Linked DNA regions of Homo sapiens: all the other regions are linked to region 2. The links come from fine-mapping of genetic effects on gene expression. A gene starts in region 2. Each other region holds a variant in brackets. All regions are shown on one strand. Distances are between the middles of the regions.

The links. PIP is the estimated chance that this variant, and not a neighbour inherited with it, causes the effect.
Region 1: its variant is the best candidate, but not a certain one, in a credible set for the expression of ENTPD1-AS1 in whole blood (INTERVAL, PIP 0.86).
Region 3: its variant is the best candidate, but not a certain one, in a credible set for the expression of ENTPD1-AS1 in whole blood (INTERVAL, PIP 0.64).

Annotation. Positions count from the first base shown.
Region 1 is chr10:95,972,803-95,980,389 of GRCh38, reverse strand. It overlaps CC2D2B (coiled-coil and C2 domain containing 2B), which reads right to left. Exons shown (of 35, transcript NM_001349008.3): 17 at 6,234-6,381. The region is part of intron 2 of ENTPD1-AS1 (ENTPD1 antisense RNA 1); the gene reads left to right. Among named protein-coding and RNA genes, the nearest start is that of CCNJ, 67 kb to the left of the region's middle. The variant T/C (reference allele first, on the strand shown) is at 3,996.
Region 2 is chr10:96,086,341-96,093,927 of GRCh38, reverse strand. ENTPD1-AS1 (ENTPD1 antisense RNA 1) reads left to right here and starts at 3,693. Exons shown (of 6, transcript NR_038444.1): 1 at 3,693-3,946; 2 at 4,621-4,662. RefSeq lists enhancers at 3,544-3,593, 3,604-3,973.
Region 3 is chr10:96,113,077-96,120,663 of GRCh38, reverse strand. No RefSeq gene overlaps it. Among named protein-coding and RNA genes, the nearest start is that of ZNF518A, 13 kb to the left of the region's middle. The variant T/A (reference allele first, on the strand shown) is at 3,223.

The DNA of each region.
Region 1 (7,587 bases), 110 kb after region 2:
TTCAACATAGTCCCATGGTTTCTGCCTCAGAGAAAGTAATACAAATCTCAGAGCCTTGCTACAATGATTCCCCCAGCTGCTCCTATACACGTTTAGCTGTAGGCTATGGCTCACAGCAGTGCTGTTCTTGGGTCAAAACCAGTCAAATGATTGAAGATTTTTCCCTCCCTCCTTCCCTCCCTCCCTCCCTTCCTCTCTTCCTTCCTTCCTTCCTCCTCCCTCCCTCTTCTTTTCGATTGAAGATTTCTACTTTGGTGATGGAGAGCTGGAAGCAGTACTTTATAAAAGGCATGGGAAACTCTTTGGTTGTTGTCTATCTAATGCAGCCCTGACATTTACATCTTGTTTCTGACAAAAGAATCAAAGTATAGCATGGCCCCAAGAAAGAGGCGAGCTTTAATTCTAGCAGGCCCCAAGACCTTGGCTTATACACCCAAATGCAAGGCCACAGCCACCACATTTGTAAATTGAGGTAAAATATACATAACATTTACCACTTTATTTTAAAATACACAATTCAGTGGCATTAAGTACACTCACAATGTTGTGCAACCATCACCACCATCCATTTCCAGATTGTAATGATGGTTGTACAAGCCTGTGAATATATTAAAACCATTGCATTGCATGTTTTAATTGGCTGAATTTTATGGTTTGTGAGTTGTATCTCAATAAAGATGTTAAAAAATAGTTAAAAATATAACTGTGCTGAGAGCTAAGATAAACATTCCTGTGAACCAGAAATGGAAAAGAAAGGCAGAGTGGTGAGTGGGGATAGCACTGTGGGCTTGCTGGGCTTCAGGCCTAGGAGCAGTCCATGGTGGTTGTGGGCTCAGTTCCTGAGACAGGGAACTAGCACCAGGCTTATCATTTTAAGCCAAAGATCTGGGGGGAACTTTACTTAGATAAAGAGACCTTTAAAAAAATACTGACCACTGCATGGGGCCATGGCTTTTAGAAAGCTATGAGTCTAGAGAGGGAAAAGGACACAGACACTGCCCCATAATGAGGAACTGAACCAGGCTCACAGCTCACCAGATACCTAGATCTGTGATGACTCCAGTAGCAACCCAGTATAACAACCCAATCTCCCAACCTATCCAGTAAGTAGGCTTACAGCCCACTTCTGGATTTAGGAGGACAGATGAAGTCAAATTCAGAACCATTAGGTAAGGAGGGGTAGATACAGAAGGAGAGAGAGGAAAAAAAAAAAAAAACACCAAAAACCCAGAAACGTATAAATCAAAATCACCCAAAAGTTCTTCAAGTCAAAATGACACTGCTAACCAAAACTTCTGAGCAAAGAAGCCATGCTCAGAAAAATAATCAACAGTTATCAACTATCAGAACATAAATTAATTCTAGTTGAAATTCATTTTATGAAAGTCTGCCAAACACATTTTAATGAAGTATGCTTACGATGTAAAAGCAAATGAAAACTAATAATTCACTTTTAAATGCAAGAAATAATGGAACAAAATGCCAAAATGAAATAAGAAAATGTAGATATGAAAGAGAATCAAACAGAAAACTTGGCAGCAGAAAATAAAAGTAAAAATTATAACATAAAAATCAAATAAACCTTATACTGGACAAAGTTGAATAATGAATTAAGGAACTAAAAAATAGTACGCAGAAATTCACCCAGGATGCAGATGAAATAAAAACATAAAAATGTGAAATAATAGGTAAGAGATGTGGCTAATAGGCTGAGGCTTGGCTGGGCTCAGTGGCTTAGGCCTGTAATCCTAGCACTTTGTGAGGCCAAGGTGAAAGGATCACTTGAGCCCAGGAGTTTATCAGCCTGGGCAACATAGCAAGACCTCCTCATCTCTTAAAAAGAAAACAAAGAAAGCAAGAAAAAAATTAGCTGGATGTGGTGGCACCTGCCTACAGTCTCAGCTACTCGGGAGGCTGAGGCAGGAGAGTTGTTGAGCCCTGGAGTTTGAGGCTGCTATGATTACACCACTACATTCCAGCCTGAGTGACAGAGTGAGACCCTGTCTCAAAAATAAATAAATGAATAATAGACCAAGAGGCTCCAATACAAATTCAATAAGAAATCCTGAAGGAGAGAAGAGTGGGAATGGGGAAGAAGTAATATTTGAAGAAATAGTGGCTGAGAAGTTTCTGTAATTGATGAAAGATGTGAGGCTTTAAACATGAAATTTATTCTGCTAAGCAGGAAGAAGAATAATGATAAATCCACACATATACAGTATAGTAAAATTTCAGTACTTTAAGGATAAAGCAAAATTTTTTTCATGGCTCAAATGGCAGTTTCTTCCTTTTTTATTAAGGTTAAAGATACATAATATAAAATTTACCACCATTTTAAAGTGTATGATTCAGTAGTATTACGTATACTCACGGTACTGTATAACCATCATCATTACCTATTTCCAGAATTTTTTTCTTCATCCCAAACTGAAACTCTGTACACATTAAAAAATAACTCCTCATTTCTCCCTTCCCCATCCCTGGTAACCTTTATTCCACTTTCTGTCTCTGAATTAAAGTGAAATATTTCAATATTATCAGAGAGAAAAGATAGCCTATAAAAGCCCAACATTTAGACCAATAGCAGACTTATAAATAGCAATGATAAATCCCACAAGATAATGCAGTACTGTAACAGCTTCAAAGTGCTAAAGGGAAATAAATAACATCCTCAAATTTTCTACTCACCTAAACTATTAAGAATGAGGGCAAAATAAAGACACTTTTAGATCTAGAAAGGCTAAAGAATTTTGCTATCCATAGAAACTAACTGAAAGAATCATTAAAGGAGCATGCTTTCAGCATGAAAAGTAAATCGAGAATGAAGGATGGGAAATAAGAAATAAGGTAAACATAAAAGTCAATGAACTATGTTAAAAATTTCATTAACTAGTGTGTGTAAGAAAAACTGTTTCATGTTTAAAAATGAAAACTCTAGACAACGATCATTTAGGTTAGAGAGGTGTGGTGTTTTTTTTGTTTGTTTGTTTTTGGTTTTCTGATTTGTTTGTTTATTGAGACAGAGTCTCACTCTGTCACCAGGCTGGAGTGCAATGGCATGATCTTGGCTCACTGCAATCACCGCTTCCCAGGTTCAAGCGATTCTCCTGCCTCAGCCTCCTGGGTAGCTGGGACTACATGCGTGTGCCACCATGTCCAGCTAATTTTTGTATTTTTAGTAGAGATGGGGTTCCACTCCACCATGTTGGCCAGGCTGGTCTCAAACTCCTGACTTCAGGTGATCTGCCCACCTTGGCCTCCAAAGTGCTGGGATTACACGGTGAGCCACCACGCCCAGCTGGAGAGGTGTGTTTAATGTGGTATTAAAGCACTAAAGCTGGGCTGGGTGCGGTGGCTCATGCCTGTAATCCCAACACTTTGGGAGGTGGAGCCAGGCGGATCACCTGAGTTCAGCAGTTTGACACTAGCCTGACCAACATGGAGAGACCCCGTCTCTACTAAAAATACCAAAAATTAGCTGAGCTTGGTAGCGCATGCCTGTAATCCCAGCTACTCTGGAGGCTGAGGCAGGAGAACTGCTTGAACCAGGGAGGCAGAGGTTGCAGTGAGCCGAGATTGCACCATTGCACTCCAGCCTGGGCAACAAGAGCGAAGCTCTGTCTTAAACAAAAAAAAGCATCAAAGCTTTCTGAGACTCTCTTTCGGTTCACTACTTTATCTACAGTTCAGTCAGTGTTTGATGAATGAGTAAGTGAATGAATGAGTAACAAAACTGCCTTTCAGTTCTCCTTTGGCTTCATTCTCTGACTTCCACAAGTCAGTCCTGCCCTCTGGAGCACCCATCCCAATTCCTAGAACCTACTGCTCAGAGCCAGTCCTTGAGCTGCCACAACAAAACTGTGGGAAAGTTCTGTAACTTCCTCTAATTGTAAAGTTTGACTTAGAGAGGGCCCTGGACTTTGAAAACCTCTTTTGCAATTTACTTCCTGCTGAAACCTGTCATCTGTCCCACTCTTGCATGTAACTGTTTTCAA[T/C]CTTTTGTAAGCTTGAGTTTCCAAGTAATAGGAATTGTAAGACAACGGAGACAAGCCAATGAATATGGCTTGAAGGTCACTTGCTGGTAACCTTCAGTGACAAGTGGGTAGGATTAGGAAGGGAATGGGTGAGCAGAAAGTGGAGGGAATGTATGCAGACCAGTAGGCCACACATAGGAGAACTCTGGCAGGAAAAATCTAGCCAAAATGGGCTTCAGGATTTAATCAGGTGCTTGAGTTTTTGCTTGTTTGTTTTAAAACAAAGAAGGCTTTTGGGTACAAAAGACCAACAGCCTAGGGAGATGGACAAGTTGAATGGAAGAAAAAGATATAAATGCGTCTGTAGAATTGTAAAAGAGAGTTGCAAATTACCTGCATAAAAGTTAGCCTCAGAGTGAGGAGGACAAACATCTCACTCCAAGAAAAATGCAAACAATATTATGATGAGGCAAAGATTAGGAATAGCTGCTGTGGAGACTATGCTAGAGAAATATTAAGAAATATAACAAAATAATAGTTCTAGGTATTAAACACTTTTCCACTGGCTCCAAAATGAATTACCTTTAATAACTGTAAGATTTGCTCTTAAAATGACCTTCTCCAGGTCTCTAAGAAGATGACCTCATTTACTTAGCAAAACAAGGACATCCATCAAAGTTCCATTTCTGTTTTCATAGTGATGACTGTCCCATTCCCTGAGTTGAGGAAGAGAGAGTTTCTCTTCTCCAGAACCACAGTTATTCACTTGGGTTCTGGTTTGATACCTTCCTGACTCTGAAGGACCTTATACTCTTTCCAATATATTGGGTCTTTTTCCCCACTGATTTCAATCTTTTGTAAGCTCATCACTTTTAATCACTTCTTTTAAGAAGATAAATATGGCCCCAATTTTTAAGAAATCTGTACCTTGATTCTTTTGTCTTCTGTTATTTTTTAGCATTTTTTTATTGTCAAACTCCTTGGTAAGTAAACTACCCCCACTATGTCAGTTTCGTCCATACCAACGATCTCCTTGTGCTACTGCCATTTAGCTTTTTTCTCTTTGTTTCTTATGTACCGAAGAAAAGCATTTATGAACTCTTACTATGACTCTGGCCATATGCTACTGGTTTTTATATATAATGTTCTCCCTGTTCTTTTTTAAACAGTCTCTAATTTCAGTTTTGATTTTCCATTTAATCCAGTTATGTATAACAATTTTCAAAACTATAATATTTTTAAAACATAATTTTTTAGAGAAGTTTTAGATTTGCAGCAAAATTGAACAAAAGGCACAGAGAGTTCCCATGTACCCCATCCCCATAAACATGCACAGCCTCCCCAGCTGTTAACATCCCTCGCTGGAGTGGTACCTTTTTTTACAATCCATGAACCTACATTGACACATCATTGTCACTCAAAGTCCATAGTTTACATTAGGGTTCACCCTTGGTCTTGTAAATTCTGTAGGTTTTGACAACTGTGTAATGACATGTATCCACCATTATAATGTTATGCAAAATAGTTTCACTACTCTAAAAATCCCGTGTGCTCCAACTATTCATTCTTATCTCCCCCTAGAACCTCTGGCAACCACTGATCTTTCTACTGTCTCCACAGTTTTGCCCTTTCTAGAATGCCATAAGTTATATGAAGCTTTTCATTTCCGTTTATTTTTAAAAATATGTGTTAAGATGTGGAGGGGAGAGGATATCTTTTTGTTATCATTGTTCATTATTTTAAATGATGAAATAAACTTTTTCCTTTATATTTACCATTTCCCTCAAACATAGCACATTATGGAAGCCAGCATTATCATCATTTTCATAGAATTTACTGTACTTATTTCTAGTAATCCCACAAATAATTAATCTGAAAATTAACCCCAACCCTTCTGGGAACTCCCAGAATGATGATAATGCATAAATGATTCTTTGCTAATCCAGAATGACTGGGAGATATACAGGCCCCAGAAATAAAGTCCCTGGGAGTCTTGACCTTTGCCTACAAGTGAGGGACTCTGGGAATGCCTCTCTCATCATCTGTGTGGCTATAATTCCAAGCACTGAAGGGACACATTCTCTTACATATAAATACACATACTGCCTTAGTAGAGTGATTTAAATAAAAGATAAATCAACATTCAAATAGACTAAACTCTTCCTATTGCTGCTCAAGTTTTCTCTTTTACACATAATATGTTTTGTGTGATGCTTTGCTGAGACCTGGCATTATTTTTCAAAGATAAAAGTTTATTACCTGCAGTAAGAAGATCTTAATGATTGTGGCATAGGTATCAGAGGAAGACCATTTTCATCTAAGCTCCATGATAGAGAATAGCTAAGTTTTCCTGATGTCAAAAGACAGAGTTCTTCAGTTCCATTTCCCTCAAGAAGAAAAGGCACATCTGTTTATAAAAGGCATTAAAAACATATGAATTGTTTTAAGTGCAGTTGAAGCACATTGTGGGTTTTTTCCTGAGTTTTACTTGTGGAACTCTAGGAACACAAAGGAAGATCTGTGCTAACCCCACTCTTTTTTTTTTTTTTTTTTTGAGACAGAGTTTTGCTCTTGATGCCCAGGCTGGAGTAAAGTGGGGCAATCTCAGCTCCCTGCAACCTCCACCTCCTGGGTTCAAATGATTCTCCTGCCTCAGGCTCCCAAGTAGCTGGGATTACAGGTGTCAACCACCATGCCTGGCTAATTTTTTGTATTTTTTAGTAGAGATGGGGTTTTACCATGTTGGCCAGGCTGGTCTCGAACTCCTGACCTGAGGTGATCCACCTGCCTGGGCCTCCCAAAGTGCTAGGATTACAGGTGTGAGCCACCACGCCCGGCCCTAACTCCACTCTTATCTTAGTGCTCTCCCTCATCTCCTCTCTAAGATCCTTCAAGGACTACAAAAGAGAAGGTAAAGATTGAGATGAATATGTAGAGATGAATATCATGATTTTCTTCCTTTCATGCCTGGAGGCTTCTTAACCATTCTCTGTGGGAGTGGCTTCCAGCAAGAAAGGACCATTGGCAGCAGAAAAAGAGGCCAGCAAGCTGTTCTTTCTCCTCTTTCCTTACATTCCCAAGTCTTCTGCATCTAATCTCCAAAGAGTTTAACAATACTTCTTAAAACTTTTGCTGAGTGCACAGTGTTCCCTAAATTTTTTGAGTCCTGAGTCTTTTGTCCCGGGTCTCCATAAGCTTATTTTTCTGCTTCATCTGGACTTGAAGCAAACTCCGTTCTTCCCTCGTTCTCTGCCCATTTCCCCCCGCCCCCTCCTCCTTGCTCACTTGTTCATACTTCCTTACTTTTCACCAAATAGGCCCAAGTAGTTTCCAAACCCCTAGGAAGGTGAAAGAAAGGAATAATGGGGAGAAGGAGAGGAATGACAGTGATCTCAGAGACGCACTAACTTACATTTAACCGTATAAGAGGAGTAAAATCAATTGAAAAACAACTAACAGAAACATCCCTTCTTTCTTCTCTCCTTTTCTCTGTCCCTCCCTCTTTCCTTCCCTCCCTCATTTTCTTCTTCCCTTCCCTATACAGTTCAAAGACAAACCCATATGTCTGCGAGCACCTGTAGGTTCACTAAAGGAGAGGTCGAGGCAGAGCAGC
Region 2 (7,587 bases):
CCATAGCATAACTTCTCCTTAAGAGTGTGAGACATAAACACAGACCTAATGTTCTCATGACCGCCCCTACCCAAAAAAGGTATCTCTGTGTTGCAGAGTCACACTCTGTGATGGATTGAACGTTTGTGTGCCCGTCAAATTCATATGGTAAAGCCCTAACCCCCGCTGTGGCTATATCTGGAGATGGGGCCTCTAAGGAAGTAATTAAGATGAAATGAGGTCATAAGGGTGGGTCCCTGATCTGACAGAATTAGTGTCTTATAAGAAGATACACCAGAAAGTTCTCTCTCTTTCTCTTCCACGCCTCTTCATCTCGAGTATGTACCGAGGAAAGGCCATATGAGGATATTGTGAGAAGGCAGCCAGCTGCAACCCAGGAAGAATGCCCCTCACCAGAAAGCAAATTGGTCAAAACCCTGGTTTTGAACTTTGAGCTTCCAGGACAGTGAGAAAATAAATCTCTGTGTGTAAGCCACTCAGTCTATGGTATTTTGGCTGTGTCAACAGACTAATACACACTCCAAAAAAAGAGTGTGTAGAAATTTTTGTTTCAGCGTCATTTTCAAATTGTCCTCTGCTAAAATCTACTTTAATCCCGGCATGGTCATAAGCTGGTTTTACACTCTAGACCTGCTTGAAACTTAAACTTGGCTCACTCTCACGGGTGATTTTTAGGTTCGTTGGATGCTGCAACTCCTATGACACACAGAATGATCAAACATGGATTCCTGGGACTTGGGACTTTTGGTACTAAAGCAGGGAAAGTCCAAGGGCACTGGACAAGTTGGTCACTCTAGATAGGCAATACATTCTGTTCCTCCAGCTATTGCTCCATCTACAGCTATGGCTTCTCTAACAATCCATACCATACAGATTCTCTCCATACACAAGAGTCAAAAAGGTCTCAGGCCAACTTTCTCTTTTTTTCACGTGGCCCACATCTGCTGCACGAGAAACACTCAGGCATCATTTGCCTTGACAAACTACGGCAGTGACTACAGATCCCAACATAGCAACTTTCCTTCACTCCTATGCCAAAATTCTCACTGGCCCATCTCTCCTACCCCTGGGATTTCCCAGATGTGAGTCACGATACTACTGTACCTCTCAAAACCCAGGAAATGCATGTCAAGTTCTCTGAGTATTGCTATTGAAGCCCCCTTCACTAGACTTGAAGGTGACTGGGGAAGCATATAACAATGGCTCTCCCCAAAACTTCTCCTCATAAACTCATCTCTTTCAACATCTTCTTTTAACCCATGAAACTGGTGAAAGGTTCCAATAGCGGCAAAACCAGTTCTTGGACTGTGGCTGCCAATACAGGGAGCAAAACTGATCAAGGGCTCTAGATGCTTGCTGCACTCTGAATTCCCTGGCCACATTTTCACCCATGGGCTGCTCCAGCCGGTGACTGAGAGCAGCACAGATAATAAGGCAGGCTGGCTCCTGAAAGAAGGACTCCTCTGACAGGTGATTTTGGCTTGAGGATTTCCAATAGCCTTTCTAAATCTTGCTTAGACTGTTTGGCAGTCCAGGAAACTTCCACCACCCTTCCCTCTCTCTCTGCTTTACTCAATTTCAGACTTGCAGCCTCTCCCAGTCTTGCTTGGCTCCCGCCCATTCTCTCTCACAGGTGTTTCCTCTAATAAAATTGTTGCACATTTAATCCCATCATAACAACTTCTCATCAGAGCCAGACTAATGTAAAGACATTTCTTTGGAAAACATGCATCTTGTCAGCACCTCACTTTGGCGTTTCATAGTTGTTGCTTTATAATGCTGCAGGCAAAACTTCCAGTTTATAGTTATACTACTAACCACAGGATGAATGAATGACATGGTAAGATAAAAAAACAGGAAAAATGATGGGATTTTACTTTACATTTCTTGTTGTTCAACCCCTCCATTTTTGTTAAAATATATGTCTAATTTGAATGCGCATCAAGATGAATTTTTAGTAAGACTTATCACTGTGGGTGCTGAGTATGTGAGCAGGAACATCATAGATGCTAATTTACCTTTTAGTAGGCAACCAGGCCTGTGCCAGGACTTGGATAAGAAGGCTGTTACATGCTACCCTGGAGTTCCAAAGTAACCCCAATATCACCATCTGTCTTTGTTCCTCCACATTTTCTTCTTCCCGTGATCCCTTCTCATTTTTCCTTTCTATCTTCTTTTACTTGTTTTGTCACTGCTTTAGAAGTCACTAATAAGCAATAGTGGGAAGTAGAGTATGTGAATAAAGAATGAAGCTTTCTTTGGCAGTCTGAAATAAATTGCTTAAAACTGTACCCCAAAGCAGCCAGAATAAAAATAGCTTTTTATATTTGTTCTCCACCATTTCAAGTATCCAAACGCCCCACATGACTTGACCCCTGCAACTTTGTTTTAGGGAAGACTTTTGGTGGTAGCATACTCTCATACGAAAGTGTGTGAAAAACATCAATTTGCTTTTTTACTTTTCCTGTGAGGATTATAGAACCAAAACAAAATATCGAAAATTTTGAGAATACACTGACTCACAAAAATCCAATGCTTTTCTAGTCAAACAGGATTTCTCTACGTGATTTGTATCAAGGACGGTCATTTATCAAAATGTGACAACATGCCTTTGCCGTCATTATAACAGCAGGCAATTAAAAATGTTTTTACCATAGCCAGTTTGCTTATTTTTCTATTTTAAAAGGGTTTTATAGCAGATATGCAAAAGAGAAAGCAGAGAGAAAAAAATAAAATCACTCTCTATTCAAACACTATCACTGTTAATTTTGATGTATTTCTTGTGTTTTTCTAGGCATAATTTGTTTTTACAAAAACATAGCCTTAGTGGCTAGTCCCACTTTATTATGTGAGTACTGGTCAATGCAGAAAGAAGACTAAACAAACTACAGATTGGTTTTCAGTCATATTCTAAAGAAACAGAAGCCAAACAAACACTTGGTCTGGTGGAAAGTCCAAGATTATGGTCCTTGGCCCTCTGTTAAGGCCAGCTAGAGTATCTGGTGATGGTGAGAGGCCTCCAACTGTCTTAGTCCTGGATTTAAAAGGGCCTAAACGGAGCTAAAATGTTCCCCAGAGCCTAGCAATCATTGACAGTTTCCTCAGGTAACCAGCGCTGCAGACGGAGAATGCTGCAAAGGCAAGGTGTCAGAAACCAATTGAAATCCGAGGTTCAGCCAAGGGGACCCAGGCACACACGTGGGCCTTGTGTTCACCATAAAGAGCATACTGGCTACAAGTTGGCCCCTCTCTGGGCAACAGAGTGCCTAACTTAAAGGGGCTTACGAGGATGCCATGCGCCAACAGCTCTGGTTTTACAAAATGGAGTCACCAGGGAGAACGCGGTGTCTGGGTTAGACCACGTTCACCAAGTACCAGCTATACGATCTCGGACAAATTTACTTGCCCTCTCTTAACCTTAGTTTCCCCATATATAAAATGTAAGTGATACATTTCTGACTGCTGGGATTGTAAGGAAGGGATTAAATGGCTTGCCAATGAGGTGTTCAGCACAATGCCTGCCTAACACGTAAAACGTGTTGGGGTTGGTTGGTTGTAAGACCCACAACCTCTCTCCCCACTCTACCCCCGCCCCGCCACCAGCAGCCCAGCTGCAGCCGCTTCCGGGAACCACTTCGCTTCGGTCTCCCACTGCCGAACGCGGATCCCTCCGCGTTGCGTCACTTCCGGGAGACTCTGGCCGCGGCGATTCAATATATCCGGAAGCAACTGTCATGGCTGCTGTCAGTGAGGGCCCGTAATGGAGATCGAGTCAAGGGTTGCCCAGGGACACTTAAGAGCCTTCGGCTTCAAGGAGGCCTCTCAAAGGACAAAGGATGAGACTGCCTGGCGGCAGAGTGCCCCCCACAATCGTAGGAACTGTGTCGCCGCGCTTCCCGTTAACTTGCCGCTAAGTTTTTCTAGAAAAGTCGCCCTTCTTGCCAGGGTGGGACCTCACTTCTGACCTAGCCCTTCTTTGTGTACCAAGTTTTTGTTTCCGTCATTTCCCGCAGCCCGGGAGCTCGGCGGGCGATACTGTGGTAGCCTGGGAGGAAGGGGCGGGCCGGATGCTGGAACCGAGAGAGGTGGGGCTCGTCGAGGAGTCACGGGCGGCCGAGGCTGGAGTCTCCTAAATGCAACCTTGAGCTGTTCCACCCTTTGGTGCTTGGTCTGTTAGCTCGAGGTGCTCCTCACCGTGGAGGCGTTTAGAGCTGGTCATAAGGCTCTTACCTGCTGACCCAACCACCCTCAACCACAGCTTGCCCTGCTCCAGATAGACTTTGATCCTAGAAAATATCTAAGATGGGTGTAGTGCAGTATGTTATTGTTTTAAGTCTCAAACATAAGCAAACTATTATTAAAAGTTTTAGAATTAATAGGCAGAGTTCACATATTGGGTCGTGTTATTGTTTTAAGGTTTAAATTTAGATAACATGTTAGTACTTGTTGAGATTTTAACAAAAGCATTAAAAAAATGAGAAAATAGATTAATCTTTAGAATATTTTAAGTTTGCTACTGCGCAGTGGTAACATGAAGACACCTCATAATAAGTCTTTGATTACCAGAAGCTTCTGAAAGTAAAATTATGGGTATATTAATGTGAGTTTTCCTCTCTGCAGGGTGTCCTATAGACTTTGTCATGGAGTGAAACAGAAACAAATGTGAGTTAATCATTAACATTTCCTAGTGGTTAAAATTACTTTTTAAGCGCTTAACTGTGTATTTTTTAGATTGAAGATTTCAAATGAAATTTTGATTTGACTGAAATATTTAATATGTGATGAGTTGATATTAAAATACAGAAGATTACTATTTTTATAGAAACAATAATGTAGAAACTAATATTTGAAGCAGGTTTACTCCACATACTGTGTTATAATTTAAATTTTCACTTAAACTCTCAAAATCAGAAGAGCTGACCTAGTAAGGCTTAAACCTCTAAAACTTGTGGTTTTAACAAGGCTTAATATACGTAGTTATAATAGTTTTTAAAAAAATTGTTATCAAGTTCCTCAGGTGATTCTGATATAGTATTTTAAAGAAAGCAAAGAGAAATGATCTGTTTATACATTTTAAATATTTTGTTCCTTATTTATGTATTGAGACTGTGCTTATAAATGCATTCACACGCATTGAAGTACATAATTTGATCGTCATGCCAGCCTGGAATCTTGCTTTTTGTATGGTTTCTTGCAGGTAGGTCTATTGGGTTCTTGGCATAGTACCTGGACAAAACATTGTTAAGGTGGAAATTTTCATTGTATTTATCACTTCAAACACTTGACCAGTTTATTTAGTTTTCAAGCGCTTTAGACAACTATATGTGGGCTTGACTTAGTGTATAATAAATGTAAAGTTTGATCTCAAGTAGTTGACATTTATGGAGTATTTACCATATGCCAATCTTTGTGATAATTGCTAGACATATTTTATTTAATGCTTACAGCAGTACTGTGAGTTAGGTTTGTTAAATCCCTGTTTTAATAGATGGAGAAACTGAGGCAAGGACGGATTAAGTTACAAATCCGTCTTTGTAACTTAGAGCCATCTTCTTACCTACTTGTTTTGTATGACACCCTTTTCCTCCATATAACTGAACACTGGTAGAAGAGTGAATGACTGTAGAAAACAGACCTGGACTCTATTCTACCTGTCCAGCTTTGTAAACTAGGGCAAGTTGTGTGACCACTCTGAATTTCATTTTCCTCACCTATAATAAATGAAAACTTTGAACTATTATGTTTTATTGAATCTTGAATCATCAGAAATCCTTAAGGCTGGGTGTGGTGCTTCACGCCTGTAATCCCACCACTTTGGGAGGCCCAGATGGGAGGATTGCTTGAGGCCAGGAGTTTGAGACCAGCCTGGTCAGTCAGCATAGCGATATCCCATCTCTACCACAAAAAAAAAAAAAAAAATTCCTTAAAATGGTGCCTTTACCATCAAACCTGGGATTTTCTTCCAAGCCCCTAGTGCTCATTCTGAGTTTTGAAGTTTTGATGCACGGCAGTGCCAACTCCATCTCCATTGCCGTCTAGTCTGATTACATTGTAAGATGTGACTGATTTCAGAGATGTCAAAATGTAAAATAATGTGCATCTTGGAACTAATGAGCTCTTTTTCAACCCTGACTCTGTAACATCTGTGACTTTTTAACATTTTATTGCAGGATTAAGTATTTTTGAATGTAAATGATTCAAGATAACACATAGACTTCGTTTGATGACATCTGCAAAATAAATTTTTAAAAAATTTGGGCTTCATGATAATGGAAAAGTAGAAACTATGTTTGTCTTTATCACCTGTGAATCCCCCATATTGAGAACATGCCTGGCACATAGTGAGTGTTCAGTAATCATTTACTCAATGAAGTAAACAAGTCTTCATTTCTTTTTTCTTTGTTTGAGACAATCTCACTCTGTTGCTCATGCTGGAGTGCAGTGACGCTATCTTGGCTCACTGCAACCTCTGCCTCCAAGGCTCAAGTGATCCTCCCGCCTCAGCCTCCCAAGTAGCTAGGACTACAGGCACACACCACCGCACCAGTTAATTTTTGAATTTTTTTGTAGAGACAGGGTCTTACCATATTTCCCAGGCTGGTCTTGAACTTCTGGGCTCAAGCCATCTGCCTGCCTCAGCTTCCAAAGTTCTAGGATTACAGGCATCAGCCACTGTGCCCTGCCACGTCTTCATTTCATATTACAAATACAATATTAAAAAATTGTGTTTGACTTGAATTAGACATAAAATACACAGTCATGCATCGCTTAATGACAGGGATACATTCTGAGAAATGTGTTGGGTGATTTTGTTATTGTGCGTGTACTTACATAAATCTACATGGTATGGGCTACTACATATCTGTATGGTATGGCGTATTGCTCCTAGGTTACAAACCTGTATAGCATGTTACTGTACTGGATACCATAGGTGGTTGTAACACAATGGTATTTGCATATGTAAACATGTCTAGACATAGAAAAGGTACAGTAAAAATATTATAACTTTATGGGACCGTCAGTGAAATGTCATTATGTAGCACATGACTGCAATAGTATTAATAGTGTAAAACTATTTTGCACTGAAATTTTTTGCATTCAGAAGTTCACTGTTGTAAACTGTCTTTCTTTCCAAATATCTTTTCTTCTGCTGATTATTGCTGATTGTCATCAAGTATGGGGTATATTTTGTTCCTCGAAGAGTTATAGTAAAAATTGAAATGCTGGCTTATAGACTTTCCAACAAAGAATCTGATTTATTTTTAAAGTGGCCAAAGTATAGGAACATTATTTAATTTTTAGAAATCTTGATTGTAAAAAAAGTTTTAAAAATGTGATTTGATAGCTTATTTAATTTTTGTGAGTATTCTGGAGGTGATTAGGCATACTATCTTTCCTAGTATACAAATAATATTGAATATTTCTGAGTTATGAACAATAAAAATAAACTACAATTGAAATTATGTCATAATTGAAATTATGTCAGTGGGCAGAAAAGTGTTCCAAGTTTTTGGGTGGGCAAGTGTAAGAATAATGTTAACAGGAGAAATTATTCCAACCGTAATTATGGATGTCTAATAGTCTGTA
Region 3 (7,587 bases), 27 kb before region 2:
AAAGAAAAGAATCCCCATTTGAAAATGTGCTACAAGCACTGGGTAGGATAAATAAAAACATACCTGGATACACCATAGTAAAATTACCAAAATAAAAAAAGTAAAGAGAATTCTTTTTTAAGTCACCAGCAAGAAAAGACAGATTAAATACAAAAGAATTAGACTAAAAACAGAATTTTTCAATACCTCATAAATATTATAAGACAACATCATAATTTTTTTAAGTGGTGAGAGAAGATGACTGTATATAGGATATCAAAGCTAGCTGAACTATTGTTATAAGGGCAATTTTAAAGATATTTGCCATCACATTTAAAGAGTAAGTAAATTTACCTCCAAATATTCTCTGCAAAGGAATATTAAATAATGAACTTCAGCCAGAAGGTAAGTAAATCAAGAGGAAAAGTATAAAATATAGCAGAAATGTTGAGTTCTGAAACTTACAAAATATGTGAGACAATTAATGGATTCTTCAAGAAAACATTTTCTAATCTTCGAGAAAAGTTGAAGCTAAAATGCTATGCAACAATTACAAGGTTTAGAGTTGGTCTTGATGCTCAGTGGATAAAAGTCATGTGGTATTCAGAAGAAAGATAGAAATATTGGGTAATCACATGTTGGCTCACACCTGTAATCCCAGCACTTAGGGAGGCCGAGGCGGGTGGATTACTTGAGGTTAGGAGTTCAACCATCCTGGCCCATGTGGTGAAACCCCGTCTCTACTGAAAATACAAAAATTAGCCAGGCGTGGTGGCACACACCTGTAATCCCAGCTACTTGGGAAGCTGAGGCGGTAGAATCACTTGAACCCAGGAGGCAGAGGTTGCAGTGAGCCGAGATCAAGCCACTGTATTCCAGCCTGGGCAACAGAGCGAGACACTCTCAAAAAAAAAAATAAAATAATAAAATAAAAATTGAGTAATTACAGACATTGTTAGAAAAATTTATATGTAGTTATGTACATCAAATATTAAGGGTTCCTGTTAAAAGAACAGAAATGTATTCTATAGCTTCTAAGCCAAGAGAGGAATCAAAAGGCAATACATTTTGTTTCTCAATCCAATCTAAGGAAGGAAAAAATAAAGACACAGTGATAAAAGATGGTAAACAGAAAATGTAAATGTAAATATTATGATAAACATAAGTTCATCAATCATTTTAACACAGTAAGCTTACCTATTGAGACAGATAGATCCTCAGAATATATCTCAAAAACAAATTCCATCACTGTGTTGCTTACAAGAGAAAATAAAAAAACTATAAAGTTTGAAAGTAAAAGTTAGATAGATACACCAAGAAAATATTAAACTAATGGAAAACGGCGTTACCAAACCAAACCGGGCTAGTTTGCCTGTGCAACACAAAGCCAAACACGGAAGCACCAGGTTTTTGCAACGTGAAAGGGTTATTGTGACTGGACTGGCAAGTAGACGGGAGGAGGAAACACTCAAACCTGTTTCCCCAAGCTGGGGGTTGGGCCAGGTTTTTGTTTTGTTTTGTTTTGTTTTTTGTTTTGTTGTTGTTTTTCAGACGGGGTCTCGCTCTGTCGCCCAGGCTGAAGTGACACTCCCAAGTAGCTGGGATTACAGGAGCATGCCACCACGCCCCGCTAATTTTTGTATTTTTTTGTAGAGCCGGGTTTCGCCACATTGTCCAGGCTGGTCTAGAACTCCAGGGTTCCAGCGATGCACCCACCGCGGCTTCCCAAAGTGCTGAGATTACAGGCATGAGTCCCCAGCGCCCAGCCTGGGTCGGGTTTTTTTAAGTATAGGATAATGAGAGGTGATCCGATTGGATCTTGCAATGAGTTGCTGCTGGGGGTCATGATGTCAGTGGTGTCTGCTTCTTAATTTAGTCCCTGTTCCTTGGTCTGAGCATTTAGGTTCCACCAGTGGTTGCACACTTGGTTCATCTGCGCATGCTCAGGTTACATGACTTTGAACCTGGGAGGTCCATAGCAACTGAAAAGCAATTCACAACCTCGTTACATAAAAGTTGAACCCAATTGGTCTGGTTCAGTTACAATAGGTTAAAAATACTAGTATGAGTCCAAAATATCATTTAAAGACAAAAGCTTTAATAAGGATTGAAAATAGTCACTGCATAGTAATAATAAAAGGAGCTATTAATGAATAAGGTATCATAATCCTCAACTTATAATTAACAATATAAGATTGGAATTTATAAAGTAAAATCTAACAAAAGAAAAAAATTGAGACATCTACAATCATAGAGGAAGATTTTAATACACCTTTTTTAGAAACTGATAGGGCAAGCAGATTAAAAAATTTGTGAGGATATAGAAGATTTCAACAACAAAATCAGTAAGCTTAAACTAATTTATATACTCCTGCACTTAAGCTGACAATAGATAAATGGAATATTTACAAAACTTGAACACTTTTTTTCAACACCTTTCCTAGAATCAACACCATGCAAACTAGAGATTGTAAAACTAGGACAAAATAACAATATAGAAAGAGTTGTGTCTTATTTCATATAGTATTGAAATATTAGTGACGATGGGTGTTTTCTTTAAAATTTCCAAGATTAATAAAAGTTTTAAAATAGAAAAGCTAAATATTAAGCACATTTCAAACATAACTTGAAAACATATAAAACAGCATTGCAAAACACATTTTTTTTTTTTTTTTTTTTTTTTTGAGACGGAGTCTCGCTCTGTCGCCCAGGCTGGAGTGCAGTGGCGCGATCTCGGCTCACTGCAAGCTCCGCCTCCCGGGTTCACGCCATTCTCCTGCCTCAGCCTCCCAAGTAGCTGGGACTACAGGCGCCCGCCACTACGCCCGGCTAATTTTTTGTATTTTTAGTAGAGACGGGGTTTCACCGTTTTAGCCGGGATGGTCTCGATCTCCTGACCTCGTGATCCGCCCGCCTCGGCCTCCCAAAGTGCTGGGATTACAGGCGTGAGCCACCGCGCCCGGCCTGCAAAACACATTTTTAAACATGCCTATCACTCAAATAAAATTTTTAAAGCAATAACTAAAAATAACACATTAAAAATACTGAAGCACTACCCCAAAATGGATAAAAGTTTATTTAAAATGAAAGGTAAAAAATGAAGTAATATTTGATGATTTTTAAAAAATGCAATCTTCAAAACAAAGTGTGTGTCAATGGTGTGTCAACGGTAACATCCTTGAGTTGCAAATACATTTTGTGTACATTTATTCTGGCTGTTTCTTCTCTCTTTTTTTTTTTTTT[T/A]AAAAAAACCCTCGTATCCTAGGACCAGCTATTTCTTCTTGTGTCTATTTTATTGTTATATTTTCCTAGATTTTGTCCAGTTTTTCTTAAATGGCAAATTTACTGACAATACAATTTAATCATTTTCCCATCTGTAGGATATATTTTGATATCCCCTTATACATTGCTGATATTATTTGTGATTTCTCTGTCTTTCAAAATCATTATCCCAGAGATATTTCTTTTTCTTTTTTTTTCTTTAAGTCATTTTAAATAACCAAGCTTTTGGGTAAGTTGATCTTCTATATTTAATATTTGTTTTCTATTTTATTCACTTCTGCTATTTATATTATTTCTTCTTTGTATATCCTTTGGTTTAATTTGTTACTTGGTACCTAGTTTCTTGACAGGAATCTCTAACTGATTTCAGTCATTCTCCTTTCTTACACATGCAAAGTTATAAATTTCCCTCCAACACTACTTTAGCTATATCCTACAGTTTTTGATTTGCAGTATTTTAATTAACATTGAATTCAAACTATTTTTAAATTTCCATCGTGATTTCTTTTTAACATGGGCTACTTTGATATGTATGGTTTAATTTCTAAACACATGGTGTTTCTTTCCTTTTCCTCTTCTACTGTTTACTTCTGTGTGTTGTTTTTGTATTGATCTCAAACTCAGTTCCCTTGTGATCAGGAAACATGTATTCCACAATTTCAATTCTTTGAACTGTATTGAGATTTGTTTTATAGCCTTGGATATGGTCAATATTTATAAATATTTCACGTGCTCTTGAAAAGAATGTGTATTCCATGGTAATGGGTATAGTGTTCTGTGCATGTCTCTTAGGTGCATTTAAATCATTGTTTTTACTCCTATATCTTCATTGATTTTCAAAAATTTTTTGTCTGTTTATTTTTTCACTTACTGAGAGAAGTATCTTTAAAACTCCCAGTATGATTGTTGATGTGTCTCTTTTTCCTTGTTGTTCTGTTATTTTGCTTTATGTGTTTTGAGACAATGTTATTTATGCACATATAATTTTAAAATTATTATATCTTCCTGATAAATTAGTTTTATCTTAATGAAATAGGGCTGTATTTCTAGTCAGACATTTTTTTCTTGAATTTTACTTTATCTGAGAGTGATATATATCTATACCAGGTCTCTTTAAGTTAGTGTTTACATGACATGACCTTTTATCTTTAAGCTTTTCTTTCATTACAGTTTGTCTCTTACAAACAGCAGATCATAGTTTCTCTTCCTAAGAAAACGGTTTGCTCCTAGCTGGACAATACAGATCATTTATACTTAATATAATTAGGTAGGGATATATGTGAACTTAAATCTACTATCTATTTTTTTGTTTTTTCTACCTCTTCCACGATCATTTTTCTCCTTTTCTTTTCTTCTTTTGGATTGATTAGATGTTTTATTATTCCTTTTATCAGTTTTGTAGTAATCTCTTCTTTACTTGTCTTTAAGTGCTTTATTATAGTTTATATTATTTACCCATGGCTTATTAATATCTAATGTACATCAGTACTTTTTCTTTTTTCTTGTCAATGAAGAGAACATTTTAACTCAGTTTAATCCCATCTTTCATACTTTATGTGCTATTGTTCACAAATTTTAATTTTCTCTCTATCATAAGCCCCAATAGACATTGTTATTACTGCTTTACATAGACATAATTGCATAATTGATTCAGATTTACTTCTACATGCTTTCCTAATATCTTGCAACTCCAAGCTTCCATCTGGGATCCTTTCTCTTCTGCTTGCGGGGGTGAGGGGGGAAACACTTGATCTTTTAGTGTAGGTTTGCTGGTGATAAAGCTTTTTGTTTGTGTTTTCTTGAAATGTACTTATTTCACCTTCATTACTGAAAGATAGTTTCGTTTGTTATGGAATTCTAGGTTGGCAGTTATTCTCTTGTACCACATTGAAGATAACTTTATGGTGCCTCTGACTTTCATTGTTTCTCTTGAGGAGTCACAGCTATCTATTCAATTTTTGTTCTGTTGAAGATAATATGTGTTTTTTATCTTTATATGAACAGAATTTTGCTTTTAAAAATTTCCCTGTCTTTGATTTTAGCAGTTTGGTTCTTATGTCATTTCATATATTTATCCTTCATGTTGTTTTTCAGAGAAAAACCCCCTCGGTTTTGGAAAAAAATTATGTTATTAGCTATTTATAGCTGCATTTAAAAATTACCTTCAAAGCTTAGCAGGTAAAACCAATAAACATTTATTATCAAGCTGGGCACTGTGATGTATGCCTGTAGTCCCAGCTGCTCAGAAGGCTGGGGCAGGAAGATCGCTGAGCCTAGGAGTTCAAGGCCAGCCTGGGCAACATATACTCCGTCTCTTAAAAAAATAAAAATACATTTATTATCTCATAGCATTTATGTTGGAGGGACCTAGAAGCAGCTTAGCTAGGTGTTTCTGACACAGAGTCTCACATGAGATAGCAGTCAAGATGCTTGCTAAGACTGCAGTCATTTAAAGGCTTGACTAAGGTTGAAGATCCACTTCTAGGGTGTCTGATTCAGTGCTGACTATTAGCAGGTGGTCTCAATGCAATGTCACATGGACTTCTCCGTTGGGCTGGTTGAGTATACTCCTAGCATGGCAGTTGATTTCTACCAAAGCAAGTGATCTAAAAGAACACAAGATGGAAGCCACATTGTCCTTTATTATATTGTCTCAGAAGTATGAGTTACAGAGGCCAGCTGTATTCAGAATGAGAGGGGACTACCCAAGAGTTTAATACCAAGAAACAAAAATCACTGGAGGTCATCTTGGTGGGTAGCTACCACATTCCACCTTCTCTAACCCAATTATTCATGTCCCTCTCATATGAAAAAATAGTCACCCTCAAAAGTTTTAATCCATTACAGCACGAGCTCAAAGTACAAAACTTTATATTGGGTCCAGATATGGGTAAGTCTTCTTGGGTGTAGTTCTTTCATAAAAGCTCAAGTATGGTTCCTTTCAATCTGAAGTCATATGAACTAAAGTGACAAGTTATTAGTGTCTCCCATGTCAAACAGTATGGTGGCACAGGCAAAGGATAACTGCTATAGATGCTCCTGTTTAAAAGGATGGGGGAAGTCCACAGCAAATCTGAAATTCACCTGGACAAATTTTTAAAGTCCTTGATCGGAATTCACTGCTAATCCTGCACAGGAACAATTCTCCATATCTCTTGGCTCTACCATCTGGGCTCTTGATTCTTTTCTTTGAGTTATTCTTCCTTTTTCATGAAACACTATCATTGGTTTTGGTTGCATGATTTTCTTGGCCTATTTCATGCCTATAAATGTTTCCAAATCCAAGGACTTATTTTCCTTTTTGCTATTTCTGACCCATTAAGTCCAAGCTAGTGGTGTTTCCACCAATATAAGTATCTTTAAAACTTTGTGGGTATTCTGTGAAAGTTCTTGGATTTACTCTACTAAGCAAAAGCCACACCCACAAATCTCATTGAAGTGATCCCTTTTCTACACTGGGCTTCCACTGATGCTGCTGGGGACAGCACACCTAAGAGTCACATAACCTTTATTCTCTGATTAAAAGTATCTAAAGTATCACCTTGGATCCTTCTGAGATCTTTAAAAGGATTTTACAGGCACACTCTCAGCTTCATCTGTTAGACCAGGTTTTTCTCAAAGTGCCTTAAATTTGACTTTTGTCTGGAAGCCATTTGTTAATTTCAGCATTCTGTGTCATTTGGAGAGGCTGAGAATGTTCAAATCCAGTGATTTCTGGCTTCTCTCACTCAACTTTTTAAAAACAGTTCTATTTTTTGCTTATTCTCGCCTTTCACATTTTACTATAAGCAAAATGAAGAATCAAGGAGGCACACAATACTTTGCCTGAAAATTCTTTTTAGCTAGATCACGTAGCTCATCTGGTATGTTTGCTACTTTCCATGTTACTGCAGGTACTAGTTTTGCTAAACTTTGTTTTTACATAAGGAAGATTTCCTTTCCTCCAATATTCAGCAAAATTTACCTCCCTTTCATTTTAAGTCCTCACCTGCAGTTTCCTAAAATGCCATCAGGTTTCTAGTAACAAACACCTAAAGGCTCTTCAAGGTTTTCACCATTTTATGTTCCATATATTGCCTAGTTCCAAAGCCATTACATTTTAGGTTTCTGTTACAGCAGCACTCCAACTCCAGGCCTCAAAAATCTGTATTTGTTATTTGTCACTGCATGCAAATTAGCCCGGACTTAGTGGCATAAGACAATCAACAGTTACTATCTCCTACAGTTTTTTTAGGGTGAAAAACCTGGGAGTGGCTTAATGATTATGGCTGTGACTCAGGGTCTCTCTTTTTTTTTTTATTTTCATAATTGAGATTTTATTGGTTG